Linked DNA regions of Homo sapiens. The protein of the gene in region 1 purifies or fractionates together with the protein of each later gene. This does not show direct contact. Each region holds a gene or a part of one and is shown in the gene's direction. Other genes may lie near its edges.

Region 1 (3,500 bases):
CCGGAAGCTGGGCTGTTAAATTAAAAGTCTGTTGAATCTTCTGATTTAAGAGGGAGGTTGAGAAGGTGAAGAGGAGACCGGGGGTGAAGGAGGTGGGGAGGAGGTGAAGGAGGTGGGGCAGGTGGCTCTGCTGTGAGAGGAGGAGGTGAGCAACCCCCTTGAAGGTTTCTTTCTCAAAATGTGGACCTCTGGCATCCTGGTATGTGGTCATCTGGGGTACTTGTAAAATGTAGTTTCCCTGGGGATCCATTTCAGAGAGAAGGGTGGAGCCTTGGAATCTTCATTTTAATGAATGCCCTAGGTGATTTGAGGAACACTAGTGGTTGAAAAACTGACCTAGGAAGAGGCTAGAGTGTGATGTCATGTAACCTTGACCTTGCTTGCTCTACCAAGTGTGGACAGTATTTTGTGGAGTGAGAGAAGCCATTGATGGGGCTTAAGTGGGGGTGGGGCATGGAGGAGTGGGGGTGCTGGCATGATTTCTTTTAGAAGATTGGGAGCAGTGTGGAAGATAGATTTATGTAGAGTGGGAAGAGGACGGGAGATCTAGTGACCTAAAACTTCCTCCTCCCAAGGGGGCCTCTCCAGGTGGCCCTCAGGCATGACATTGAGAAAGGATTTGGGAGGAGACTTCAGGGTTTTTACACTAACAAATATGTGGGTTTGACCTGAGAATTTGTTTCTCCTTGTCTTTCTAAAACTTCCATCCTAAAGTTTCATTTCAGATGAGTTTTTATTTTGTTACTCATTTCTGGGCTATTTTACATTGCTCAGATAATGCTTCCATTCAGCTACCTCTTGGTCCATTCTAGCATGGTTTTGGATTGTTCAGGTGTTTTGGCTTTTTCATTTTTTAATTCTTACTCATTACTTTTATTAGTTCCCTTTTCTGCTTTCTTAAATATCTGCTTCTAAAATTCTAAGAGCAAGATACGTGAATGGAGAAATAGAAATATGAAACTAATGTCAAGGTTCTGACTTAATTATGCAAATAATATCATTTAAATAGAACTCTCAAGGGGAAAAATGACCACAAACAAAAGTGGATAAAAGTGAATTGACCATTTAGAACAGGGATTGGCAAACTCGTGACCTATTTGACTAGGCCTGTTTTTGTCTTAACAGCTAAGAATGGTTTTTATATTTTTAAAGGGTTGTAAAACAAATTAAATAAATTAAGGAAGTTGCAGAGCCTAAAATATTCACTATCTGAGAGCACTTTAGAGAAAAATTGGCTGAATCCTATTTTAAAGAGCCGATTTTCGTATTATTATAAAACTTAAGGGCTGGGTTCAGTGGTTCACACCGGCAGTCTCAGCAGTTTGAGAGGCGGAGGCTGAGGCAGGAGGTGGAGGATTGCTTGAGGCCAGGAGCTGCCCAGGAGTCTGGGCAACATAGTGAGACCCCCTGCTCTACCAAAAAAAAAAAAAAAATTAGTCACCATTATAATTATGTGAAAATAGGCTTTTTAAAATAAGAGTCAGCCAATTTTTCTCTAAAGTGCTCTCAGATGGTGAATATTTTAGGCTCTGCAACTTCCTTATTTAATTTGTTTTACAACCCTTTAAAGATATAAAATACCTGCTTCTAAAATTCTAAGAGCAAGACATGTAAATGGAGAAATAGAAATATGAAACTACTGTCAAGGTTCTGACTTAATTATGCAAATTAAGTGTAGTGGCCTGTGCTGTAGTCCTAGCTGCTTGGGAGGCTGAGGCAGGAGGATTGCTTGAACCCAGAAGCTCAAGGTTACAGTGAGCTATGATTGTGCCACTGCACTGCAGTTTGGGCCAGAGTGAGACTCTGGTCTCAAAAAAAAAAAACAAAACAAAATTAAGAGCTGAAAGTGACTTCCTAGGTTTTAGTCTTTATGAGTTGACTATTTCAAGGTATATGAGGGAAAAATGTTAGCTCCAGAAATGTTGGGGCAGCTGAAGGAAAAAAGACTAAACTTGTGAATAATTGGATGTGAGCCTAGATAAATTAAAAATAAAAGGAATGTCTTCCAGGTGAGGGAGAAGGGGACTGCTATTTGATCACCTCCTAGGTATGCTTTGCGTGCGGACTCTCGTCTATTTCCCTAGTCTTGTTAAAGAAGGAACACAGTTATCATCTATGTGATGAAGGGGAGTGTGTGCATGTTTGTATTATGTGTTTGTTTCTGGGAGCCTGCAGAGAGGTAACAATACGTGAATTGTCCTTAAAGGGAGGAAACCACCAAATGGTAGGGGGCGCAGGGGAGTGGTGCTGGTGTAGGCAGGAGTCTAAGAAATATCCAGATTGACCATGTCTTGGAATAGGTTCCTAGTAGTTTAATCCCATGTCTTTGCAAGGTCATAAATAAGCACCTGTTGGTGGCCAACATTTTACAGGGTCAAAAACACCTGTAGGGTTACATGGTGATAAATGCACCTTCCTCTCTTTTTCTCCCAGGCAGGCCTAACTATTTTATAATTTAGTTTCTGTTTTCTCCAGTAGAAGAGTAGAACCATTCTGGAAGGGACATTTTCCTGCTGGGCCTTGGAGTGAAGGGAATTAACTTTGAGCCTTGAGTAAGTCAGGGTTGCTGGGATCACTGCTGCCTGACCTGCTACACTCTGAACGGGGACAAGTAAAACTTGTTTTTATTTTGTGTAGACTGGAAAAAAAAGGCATTTGGTGAGTTTTTAAAAAATGACTTGAAGCTTTGACAGCACTATAGCTATGAGAAACATTCTGAAGTGTTTTAATATAGTTGAATTTTTTTTTTTTTGAGTCAGAGTCTTTCTCTGTCGCCCAGGCTGGAGTGCAATGGCACAATCTCGGCTCACTGCAATCTCCGCCTCCTGGGTTCAAGCAATTCTCCTGCCTCAGCCACCCAAGTAGCTGAGATTACAGGTGTGCACCACCATGCCCAGCTAATTTTTTGTATTTTTAGTAGACACGGGATTTCACCATGTTGGCCAGGCTGGTCTTGAACTGCTGACCTCAGGTGATCCACTAACCTTGGCCTCCCAAAGTGCTGAGATTACAGGCATGAGCCACCACGCCTGGCCATAGTTGAAATACTGTGCTGTAACAGGAGAACTTGTTTTGGTTTGTTACTCATCAGTTTGTCATCATATGGTGAGAAAAATAATGTGGAATTGCAGAACTAGTCAGGTTAGTTTAGTAGATTCTAAACTTTAAAAAAATTTTAAAAAATAGATAATGCATGCTCAGGGTACAAAAGTTAAGGGGTACAGGCCTGGCATGGTGGCTCACACCTGTAATCTCAGCACTTTGGGAGGCCGAGGTGGGAGGATCACCTGAGGTCAGGAGATTGAGACCAGCCTGACCAACATGGTGAAACCCGTCTCTACTAAAAATACAAAAATTAGCCAGGCATGGTGGCAGGTGCCTGTAATCTCAGCTACTTGGGAAGCTGAGGCAGGAGAATCGCTTGAACCTGGGAGGTGGAAGTTGCAGTGAGCCAAGAATGCGCCGCTGCAGTCCAGCCCGGGCGACAGAGTGAGACTCTG
Region 2 (3,500 bases), on another chromosome or scaffold:
ACTGGTTAGCTATATGGAATTAAATAAATTCCTATTTATTGGTGTGTGTTTTAAGATGCAACAGACTAGAACATGTTGAAGGCTGTTGGGTGGATGTTAGCGGAAAGGAGGAGAGGGAGATCAAGGTACAGTAGAAAAAGTGAGAAAAAAATGCGGACAGGGCTGGGATGCAGAACCCTGGGAGAGCAATTTGCCTCTAAAGGAAGGTCTAGGGTAGTAGACCAACTCAATTCTTATAAAGTAAGATTCTAGAGATATCAAAGATTTTTTTAAGTTATAAAACATACAATTATACAAAAAAAAATGTCATAGAGACCCATAAATTCACTGCCAAGTTAAACAGATGTTAATGTTTTGCCTGATTTGTTTCAGATCTCTGGTTTAAAAAAAGGAATAAAATGCTTGTGCTAATAGCTAAAGCCCACCTTCATATTTAGTCACTCTCCCTCCCGCCAGAAACAACCACAACCCTCACTATGTTTGTTTTGTATTTTTATTACTGATATATATATTACAGACAATAGATAGTGTTTTGTGTTTTAAAATTATACATCAGGAGTATCAACTTGTTTTTTTCACTGATCAGTGTGTTTGCCATTCAATGGCATGACATGGAACTCTGGTTGAGTGATTTTTTTTTTTTTTTTTTTTTTTTTTTTTTTGAGACAGAGTCTCGCTCTGTCACCCAGGCTGGAATACAGTAGTGCAATCTAGGCTCACTGCAACCTCGGCCTCCTGGGTTCAAGCGATTCTGCTGCCTCAGCCTCCTGAGTAGCTGGGACTATAGGTGCCCACCACCACGCCCAGTTAATTTTTATATTTTTAGTAGGGAAGGGGTTTCACCATGTTGGCCAGGCTGGTCTTGAACTCCTGACCTCAAGTGATCCACCCACCTTGGCCTCCCAAAGTGCTGGGATTACAGGTGTGAGCCACCGTGCCTGGCCTGGTTGAGTGATTTTAATGTCTGTATTGTGTTTCATTGCTTACTTACCCATTCCTCTGTTGATAAACAGTTGGGTTTCAACTCTAATGCCCTTATACACAGTGCTGCAATGTAGGTCTTATTGTGAGTGTACAAGAATTTCTCCAGGGAAATACCTAGAAAGTAGAATCACTGGGTTACAGGAGTGTATGTTATTGGTGAATTCAATTTTTTGTTTGTTTTGTTTTGTTTTGTTTTTTGAGATAGAGTTTCACTCTTGTTGCCCAGGCTGGAGTGCAATGGCGTGATCTTGGCTCACTGCAACCTCCGCCTCCCAGGATCAAGCGATTGTCCTGCCTCAGCCTCCTGAGTAGCTGGGACTACAGGCGCCTGCCACCATGCCCAGCTAATTTTTGTATTTTTAGTGGAGACGGGGTTTCACCATGTTGGCCAGGCTGGTCTTGAACTCCTTACATTGTGATCCGTCCACCTTGGCCTCCCAAAGTGCTGGGATTACAGGTGTGAGCCACCATGCCTGGCCCTCAATTTTTTTAATGATTGAAAAAATATATAACCTAAAAGTTATCATTCTAACAGTCTTTAAGTGTACAATTCAGTGGAAACATTCAGTGTTCTATCACCATCACTACTATTTCCAAAACTTTTTTCATCATCCCAAACAAAAATAACTCCTATTTCTCCCTCTCCCAGACTCTGTTCTACTTTCTGTCTGTATGAGTTTCCTGTTCTAGGTACTTCACATGAGTGAAATCATACAAGATTTGTCCTTTTGTGTCTGGCTTATTTCACTTAGCATGGTGTTTTCAAGGTTCATCCATGTTGTAGCATATATCAGAATTTTATTTCTTTTTATGGCTTAATCATGTTCCATTGTCTGTATATACATTTTGTTTACCTATTTATCAATGGATGGACAAATAGGTTTTCATCTTTTGGTTACTGTGAATAATGCTGCGATGAACATTGGTGTACAAGTATCTGTTTGAGTCCTGTTTTCAATTCTTTTGGGTCTGTACCTAGGAGTAGAATGTGCCTTATGGTAATTCTAGGTTTAGTTTTTTGAGGAACTGCCAAACTGTTTTCCATAGCAGTTGCATCATTTTACATTCCTAGTAGCAGTGCACAGGGTTCCAGTTTCTCCACACTACCTCCATCACTTATTTTCCTTTGTTTTCTTTTTCTTTTTTTTCAGTAATAGCCATCTTAATGGGTGTGAAGTAGTATCTCATAGTGGTTTTTGATTTGCATTTACCTAGTGATTAATGATGTTGAACATCTTTTCATATGCTTGGTGACCATTTGTATATCTTTTTTGGAGAAATGTCTATTCAAATCCTCTGCCCATTTTTGAATTGAGTTGGTTTTTGTTGGTGAGTTGTGAGAGTTCTTTATGTAATAAATTCTGAATATTAATCCCTTATCAGATCTATGATTTGTAAGTATTTTCTCCCATCCTGTGGTTGCCTTTTTACTATCTTTTGTTTTGCTTTGTTTTTTGGAGACAGAGTTTCACTCTTGTTGCCCAGGCTGGAGTGTAATGGCGCGATCTCAGCTCACTGCAACCTCCGCCTCCCAGGTTCAAGCGATTCTCCTGCATCAGCAGTGTCCTTTGGTGCACAAAAGCTTTTAATTTTGATTTCCAAGAGTTTTATAGTTTTAGCTCTTAAATTTAGGTCTTTGATTCATTTGAGGTTAATTTTTTTTTCTTAGAGATGGGGGTCTCGTTATGTTGCCCAGGCTAGCCTCAAACTCCTGGGCTCAGGTAAGCTTCCTACTTCAGCTTCTGAGTAGGTGGGATTATAGGGGTGTGCCATTGTGCCCAGCTGCTGATTTTGAGTTAATTTTTGTATGTGGTGTAATTTTTGCATATGGTCCAACTTCATTGTTTTGAATATGGATATCCAGTTTTCCTGGCATCGTTTGTTGAAAAGACTGTCCTTTCCCCATGGAATATTCTTGGTATCCTTACCAAAAATCAGTTGACCATATATGTGAGGGTTTATTTCTGGCCTTTCTATACTATTCCATTGGTAAATATGTCTGTCTTTTTGCCAGTATCACACTGTTTTGATTATAGTAGCTTTGTATTAAGATTTAAGTCAGGAAATGTGAGTCCTCTAACTTTGTTCTTTTTTTAATATTGTTATGGATATTTGGGATCCCTGGACATTCCATGTGAATTTTAAGATTTTTTTTTTTCTATAAAAAACACCATTGGATGCCTTTCATTTCTTTTTCATTCCTAATCACTCTAAAACTTCCAGTATTATGTTGAATAGAAATGAAAAGAATGGCTGTCCTTGTCTTGTTCCTAATCTTAAGGGAGAAGCTTTCAATGTTTCACCATTGAGTATGACGTTAACTGTGGGTTTTTCTTATATGGACTTTATCAATAACTGAAGACATTCCCTCCTATTCCTAGTTGATTGTTTTTTTACATGAAAAGGTTATTGAATTTATCAAGTCCATTTTCTGCATCAGTTGAGATGATCATTTGGGTTTTTTCCCCTTCATTCTATTAATGTATATGACATTGATTTACCTATGTTGAACCATC
Region 3 (2,243 bases), on another chromosome or scaffold:
CTAGTGCCCTACTGCCAACTGCCTCCAGTAGAATATCAGTTCCACAAAAGCAGGGATTTTTGTTTGCTTGTATCCCCAGTGTCTAGAACAGAGCCTGGCACATAGAACTTAGTAATCATTTGTTGACTGATTTCCTCCATGTCTCTCTGCAGCTCCAGAAACGCTTCATCCTGAATCTGCCAACCTTCAGTGTTCGAATCATTGACAAAAATGGCATCCATGACCTGGATAACATTTCCTTCCCCAAACAGGGCTCCTAACATCATGTCCTCCCTCCCACTTGCCAGGGAACTTTTTTTTGATGGGCTCCTTTATTTTTTTCTACTCTTTTCAGGCGCACTCTTGATAAATGGTTAATTCAGAATAAAGGTGACTATGGATATAATTGAGCCCTCTGGTCCAGGTCTCAGTTTACCTAATATTACCTCAGAAAGGATATGGAGGGAAGATGATCTTTTTGCCAGGTCTGACTTTTCTTCCTGCTCCGCCCTCCATTAACGCTCAGTACCCTTTAGCAGCTGACGGCCCCACGTTCTACTCCATGCTTGGCTTCCTTTCCAACTAGCTCTTTCATATATTTTACTTGCTAGTATCTCCATTCTCTCTAAAGTAGTGGTTCTTTTTGCCCTTAAACTTAAATTTTTAAATTAATTAACCTGAATTAATAATACATGCACTTAATGTAACATGCAAACAGTACAAAAACATGTAGTGAAAAATATTTCTTCCAGAGCTGGGTGTGGTGGCTCATACCTGTAATCCCAGCACTTTGGGAGGCCGAGGCGGGCGGATCACGAGGTCAAGAGAGCGAGACCATCCTGACCAACATGGTAAAACCCCGTCTCTACTAAAAATACAAAAATTAGCTGGGCGTGGTGGCACGCACCCCTAGTCCCAGCTACTGGGGAGGCTGAGACAGGAGAATCGGTCGAACCCGGGAGGCAGAGGTTGCAGTGAGCCTAGATCGCGCCACTGTACTCCAGCCTGGCAACAGAGTGAGACTCCGTCTCAAAAAAAGAAGGAAAAATGTTTCTTCCATCCCTATAATCCAGTCATCTGCTTCCTGCTTCCCTTCCTGGAGGAAACTTCAGCTACTAATTTCTTATGTTTTTTAAGAGATATTCTGTTACTGTGTAAAGTATACATACATACAGACACATGCCCCCTTTAAATTTTTTAGATTTATTTATTTATTTAGAGACAGGGTCTCACTCTAGCCCAGGCTGGAGTGCTGTGGCGTAATCTTGGCTCACTGCAACCTCCGCCTCCCGGGCCCAAGTGATCCTCCCATCTCAGCCTCCTGAGTAGCTAGGATTACAGGCGCACACCACCAATGCCCAGCTAGTTTTTGTGTTTTTCATAGAGACAGGGTCTCACCATGTCATTCAGGTTGGTCTTGAACTCCTGGGCTCAAGCAGTCTGCCTGCCTTGGCTTCCCAGTGCTGGGATTACAGGCGTGAGCCACCGTGCCCGGCTAAAAAGTATTTTTAAGTTCTGCATATTGCTTATTTCACTTAACACTATATTAGAGATTGTTTTATATCAATACATATAGATATGCTTATTCTTGTTGACAGTTGCATAATTTTCCATTAAATTGATGTATCATGGGCAGTTAACCAGTTACTCGTTTTACTCTTAGCATAACTTTAGGGAACAATGTGGATGTTTTGTGGTTAAAGCTATTAAAACAGTGGTTCTTGACCAGATGTGTGTTTCAGAATGTTCATCTCACATTTCCAGTTGCTACTGATGCTGCTGGTCTAGGAACCACATATCAAAACCATTTGGTCTCCGACTAAGATAAACCCTACTTTATCCAATTCTGTGCTCCTCTTAATATCATATACAGATAGGTTTTTGTTTTGTCTGTGATTAAATGTATCATCTAAGATACTACCTACTGATCATAACGTTCATATTAAAGTATTGGGTTAACATTAGATTTGGGTGTCTTATACACTATTTAATACGCCAATGATAAATGCCTTACACCATAAGAAGAAAGCTAATCATTGAGTAAATGGGAGAAAAGAGATGATTCACGTCACTACAGTTGATTCAACCTCCAACACCACCATGAATATGCATAGGTTTGAGCTTTTAGCTAGATTCCTGAGTGTAAGGCATCTATTTTAAAAGTGCCACAGGTTGGCCGGGTGCGGTGGCTCATGCCTGTAATCCCAGCACTTTGGCCGCCCGCCGAGGCGGGCGGATCACCTGAGGTCAGGAGTTCAAGACCA
Region 4 (3,500 bases), on another chromosome or scaffold:
AGCCAAGATTGCACCACTGCATTCCAGCCTGGGTGACAAAGCAAGACTCTGTCTCCAAAAAAAAAAAAAAATTGCTGTAAAATATTTTCTGTCTCAAGTCTTTCATTTCTACTAGAATACAAAAAGAAATGACTGTTCTGAGAGCTAATCTTTGGGAACTGAAATTGTGATGGATCTCTGCTGTACTTACTGTCAGCAGCTTTCCAGAGATTTGCCTCTGGTACCAGTAGTTTTTTGACAATGTGTGTCTTGAGTGTTGATGAGATATCTTTTCCTCCCTAGACAACACTACAAACTGATGAAGTTAAAAATGTGCCTTGTGGAACAAGGTAAGCTTTCTCTTTGCCTACGAGCCTCCCTTTAGCTCAGACAGAGTTTCTGTTCCTACAGCTATGATCACTTAGACATATCTCAAATAGGCATGATAGTTAACCCAAGGGGACTTCTGATCTGAGCATTGTTTGAGCAAAGGCCTATCTCCAAATAGGAGCTTTTCCATCTTAAGAACCATTATTGTTCTTATGGTATTATTGGAAAAAACTGGAGTTTTAGAGCAAGTAGACCTAACTGTGTATTAGCACTGCTGCATCTGCTTTATTGACTATTTTTTAAAGACTTTATTTTTTACAGCAGTTTTAGGTTCATAGTGAAATTGACCAAAAAGTACAGACAGTTTTTATATACCTCTTTCCCCAACACATTCCTTTATTGACACTTTAAAGCTTAGTTTCCTCCTTTATAAAGGCAGTAAAATCTACCTTGCAGAGTTGTTGTAAGGATTAGAATTACTGTATATGAAGTGCCTAACCAGAACTTGGCCCAGAATAGGTGCTTAATAAAACATAGTTTAAAATTAATCATCCCACCGTCTTCTCATCTGTAGTGTTAAATGCCATCTAATTTAGAGTTTCTGATTCAATAGGTCTGGGGTGAGGCCCGAGAATTTGCATTTCTAACAAAAGTTCCTGGGTGATGCTGATACTGCTGGTCTGAAGACCTCACTTTGAGAATTGCTGTCCTAAAGAGGTTTAGGGAAAGAAAGGCAAGCAGGGCCCAAATTATTTCTAGGGTATAATCACTGCATTGAATTGTATCAAAAGAAGAATGTGAAGTTCAAGGTATTTTTTAAATTACTTATTTTAAATGACTATTACAAGTGTAAAAAAGACATTGACATCTATAGAGGGACAGAAATGCTATGAAAAAGGAAGCGAACTCTTTCTGTGTTTTAAGTGAATATTAGTATGTTTCATTATCAGCTTCTCCCCAGGTCTATCTATAACTGTGTTTTATGGATTGCCTTTAGTAGTTCACACTTTTTTTCTTTGTTTTTAGTGGTGGGGTCATGATCTATATTGACCGAATAGAAGTGGTTAATATGTTGGCTCCTTATGCAGGTATGTTACCCATCTACCTGTGGTTTTTATAGTTATAGCCAGAGGATTTATAGCTGAGAGATTCTTTGAGGAATAGAAGGGTACTTTGAAAGTTTTATGACTTCATTGATCACTGATTAATAAATTTCTGGGGAATAGAGGCAAAAATAGGTCAGAAGTTCTGGACAGAGTTGACTTTCTGCAACTGTATGAGTTACTCTTCTCTGAGCTTAGTGTTTCTAAGAGCAAAATGGTCATTGGTTATTTCTAGAATAGGAAAGTAGTATTTTATCCAGTCAGGATGAGAGATAATTTCCTTGGGTGTTAGAAATCTGTAACTGATCAATTCCTTGGCCCACACTGATTTGCCATCAAAGAGAAGTATTTTCTAGTTGAGATTTGCTATAATTTGCAAAGCAGTCTGAAAGCCTTCAACGTGGGGAAAGCATTTTCTTGATAAAAGATGAAAACCTACAGGTATGGGGTGGGTAGGTACTGTTGTAATCAAAAACTTAATTAGAAGCCCTGAAGAAAGATATACCGTCTTATATGCATGCTTGTTAATAAAACTGGCATGTCTAGTATGTACAGAATATTGTGTTTGGCAAGAATAATTTGAAAAGATGAAATTACAGCCTTTGCCTTCAGGGGTTTTAATTTTACTTGAGAAGACATAATACAGAGCTAAAAAAGGATATATTGGGATGTAAGGTCATAATAAATTTCACATAACCGGTACAGGCACAAATAGTGAAAAGATTTCAGAGTAGAGAGCAGGCGTATTACTGTCAAGGGCATTTGGATTATATTTTTCAGAGAGTAAGCATTTTCCTTGTCTTTTTTTCCTCTCCTTTCCTTGATTACAAATCACTGGAATGGATTATGATTGAAAAAGGGAAGGGACTGATGATTCTTTAACCAGAGATTAAATAGGAAACTATTTAGATATAATTCATTTGGGAAATGATCAAGCAAATGATTTAGTCATTAAGTATTTATTAATGGCCTGTCCATTAATTTTTTTTCTTTTTTGAGATGGAGTCTTGTTCTGTCACCCAGGCTGGAGTGCAGTGGCATGATCTCAGCTCAGTGCAACCTCTGCCTTTTGGGTTCATGCAATTCTCCTGCCTCAGCCTCCCTAGTAGCTGGGACTACAGGTGTATGCCTCCACACCAGGCTAATTTTTGTATTTTTAGTAGAGACAGTGTTTCACCATGTTGGCCAGGCTGGTCTTGAACTCCTGACTCAAATGATCCACCCACCTCAGCCTCCCAAAGTGCTGGGATTACAGGCATGAGCCACCGCGCCCAGTCGGATTTGAAATCCAGTTGCATCTAATATCCCACATGGGAAGGCCAGTGGAGCAAATTCTTGGATCTGAAGACAGAAGTAGAAAGCAGCATGTTTTTGTAGATAAAGAACAGGTTCTGACGTGGTCTAGTATGTACCTTTTGGGCATTTCTAAAATTCTCTGTTTCTTAGTTTCCTAATATGCAAATTTAGGAGAATTCAGTGCTAATTTATGTAAATTACCTGATATAAAGCCCAGCTCAGTTAATGTTTTAACAACTTTAAAAAATTGCCTTTTTAAAAACGGTCTTTTGCAACTGCTTTCTTCTTTTATTTCTACTGTTCCTCAGTTTGCCTAGTCTCTCTTTACCTCTTAGCTAAACTTTTGCAGTAATTGCCTTATGCTTTCCCTGCCTCTGATCTTTATGCTTCTCAGTTCATCTTCACACTGCTGGCCAAAGCGTAAATCTGACTGTCATGCCCTTGCTTGAAACCTTTGATAGTTCCTTATTACCTCCAAAATAATGGATACTTTAGTGTGGACTTTAAAGTTAGCCCCTGTTTGATGGGCTAACCAGCAGGTGTTTGGCATTAGTATTACAAATGCAAGGGTATTTGGAAAATTGAGCACAAGCAACACATCAAGATTTGTTAGTTGTGGTTTTTGGTTTCACTATTTTGTTGGCACTTTTCCTCATGTGTAATATATCACCCTGACTTTTACCCTGGCTGAATTTGAAGGTACCTGTGTCATTGTTGGGTAAAACAAACATGGGTTGTACCTCTCCTTCAGTGTTTGATATCGTGAGGAACTATACTGCAGATTATGACAAG

Evidence for each region. Proteins that work in one complex are often made in the same cells at the same time.
Region 2: the proteins of AMFR (region 1) and OS9 purify together in Homo sapiens (affinity purification with western blotting; 2 studies listed by BioGRID, with this or other methods). This does not show direct contact.
Region 3: the proteins of AMFR (region 1) and PSMB2 purify together in Homo sapiens (affinity purification with mass spectrometry; 2 studies listed by BioGRID and IntAct, with this or other methods). This does not show direct contact.
Region 4: the proteins of AMFR (region 1) and ERLIN1 purify together in Homo sapiens (affinity purification with mass spectrometry; 3 studies listed by BioGRID and IntAct, with this or other methods). This does not show direct contact.

The regions. Positions count from the first base shown.
Region 1 is NC_000016.10:56,419,046-56,422,545, reverse strand, and holds part of AMFR (E3 ubiquitin-protein ligase AMFR), read left to right. Parts: intron 1-3,500. UniProt on the Homo sapiens protein: E3 ubiquitin-protein ligase that mediates the polyubiquitination of lysine and cysteine residues on target proteins, such as CD3D, CYP3A4, CFTR, INSIG1, SOAT2/ACAT2 and APOB for proteasomal degradation.
Region 2 is NC_000012.12:57,700,632-57,704,131, forward strand, and holds part of OS9 (protein OS-9 isoform 1 precursor), read left to right. Parts: intron 1-3,500. UniProt on the Homo sapiens protein: Lectin component of the HRD1 complex, which functions in endoplasmic reticulum (ER) quality control and ER-associated degradation (ERAD).
Region 3 is NC_000001.11:35,601,284-35,603,526, reverse strand, and holds part of PSMB2 (proteasome subunit beta type-2), read left to right. Parts: intron 1-152; coding exon 153-260; 3' UTR 261-2,243. UniProt on the Homo sapiens protein: Non-catalytic component of the 20S core proteasome complex involved in the proteolytic degradation of most intracellular proteins. This complex plays numerous essential roles within the cell by associating with different regulatory particles.
Region 4 is NC_000010.11:100,176,030-100,179,529, reverse strand, and holds part of ERLIN1 (erlin-1), read left to right. Parts: intron 1-282; coding exon 283-329; intron 330-1,335; coding exon 1,336-1,397; intron 1,398-3,459; coding exon 3,460-3,500. UniProt on the Homo sapiens protein: Component of the ERLIN1/ERLIN2 complex which mediates the endoplasmic reticulum-associated degradation (ERAD) of inositol 1,4,5-trisphosphate receptors (IP3Rs).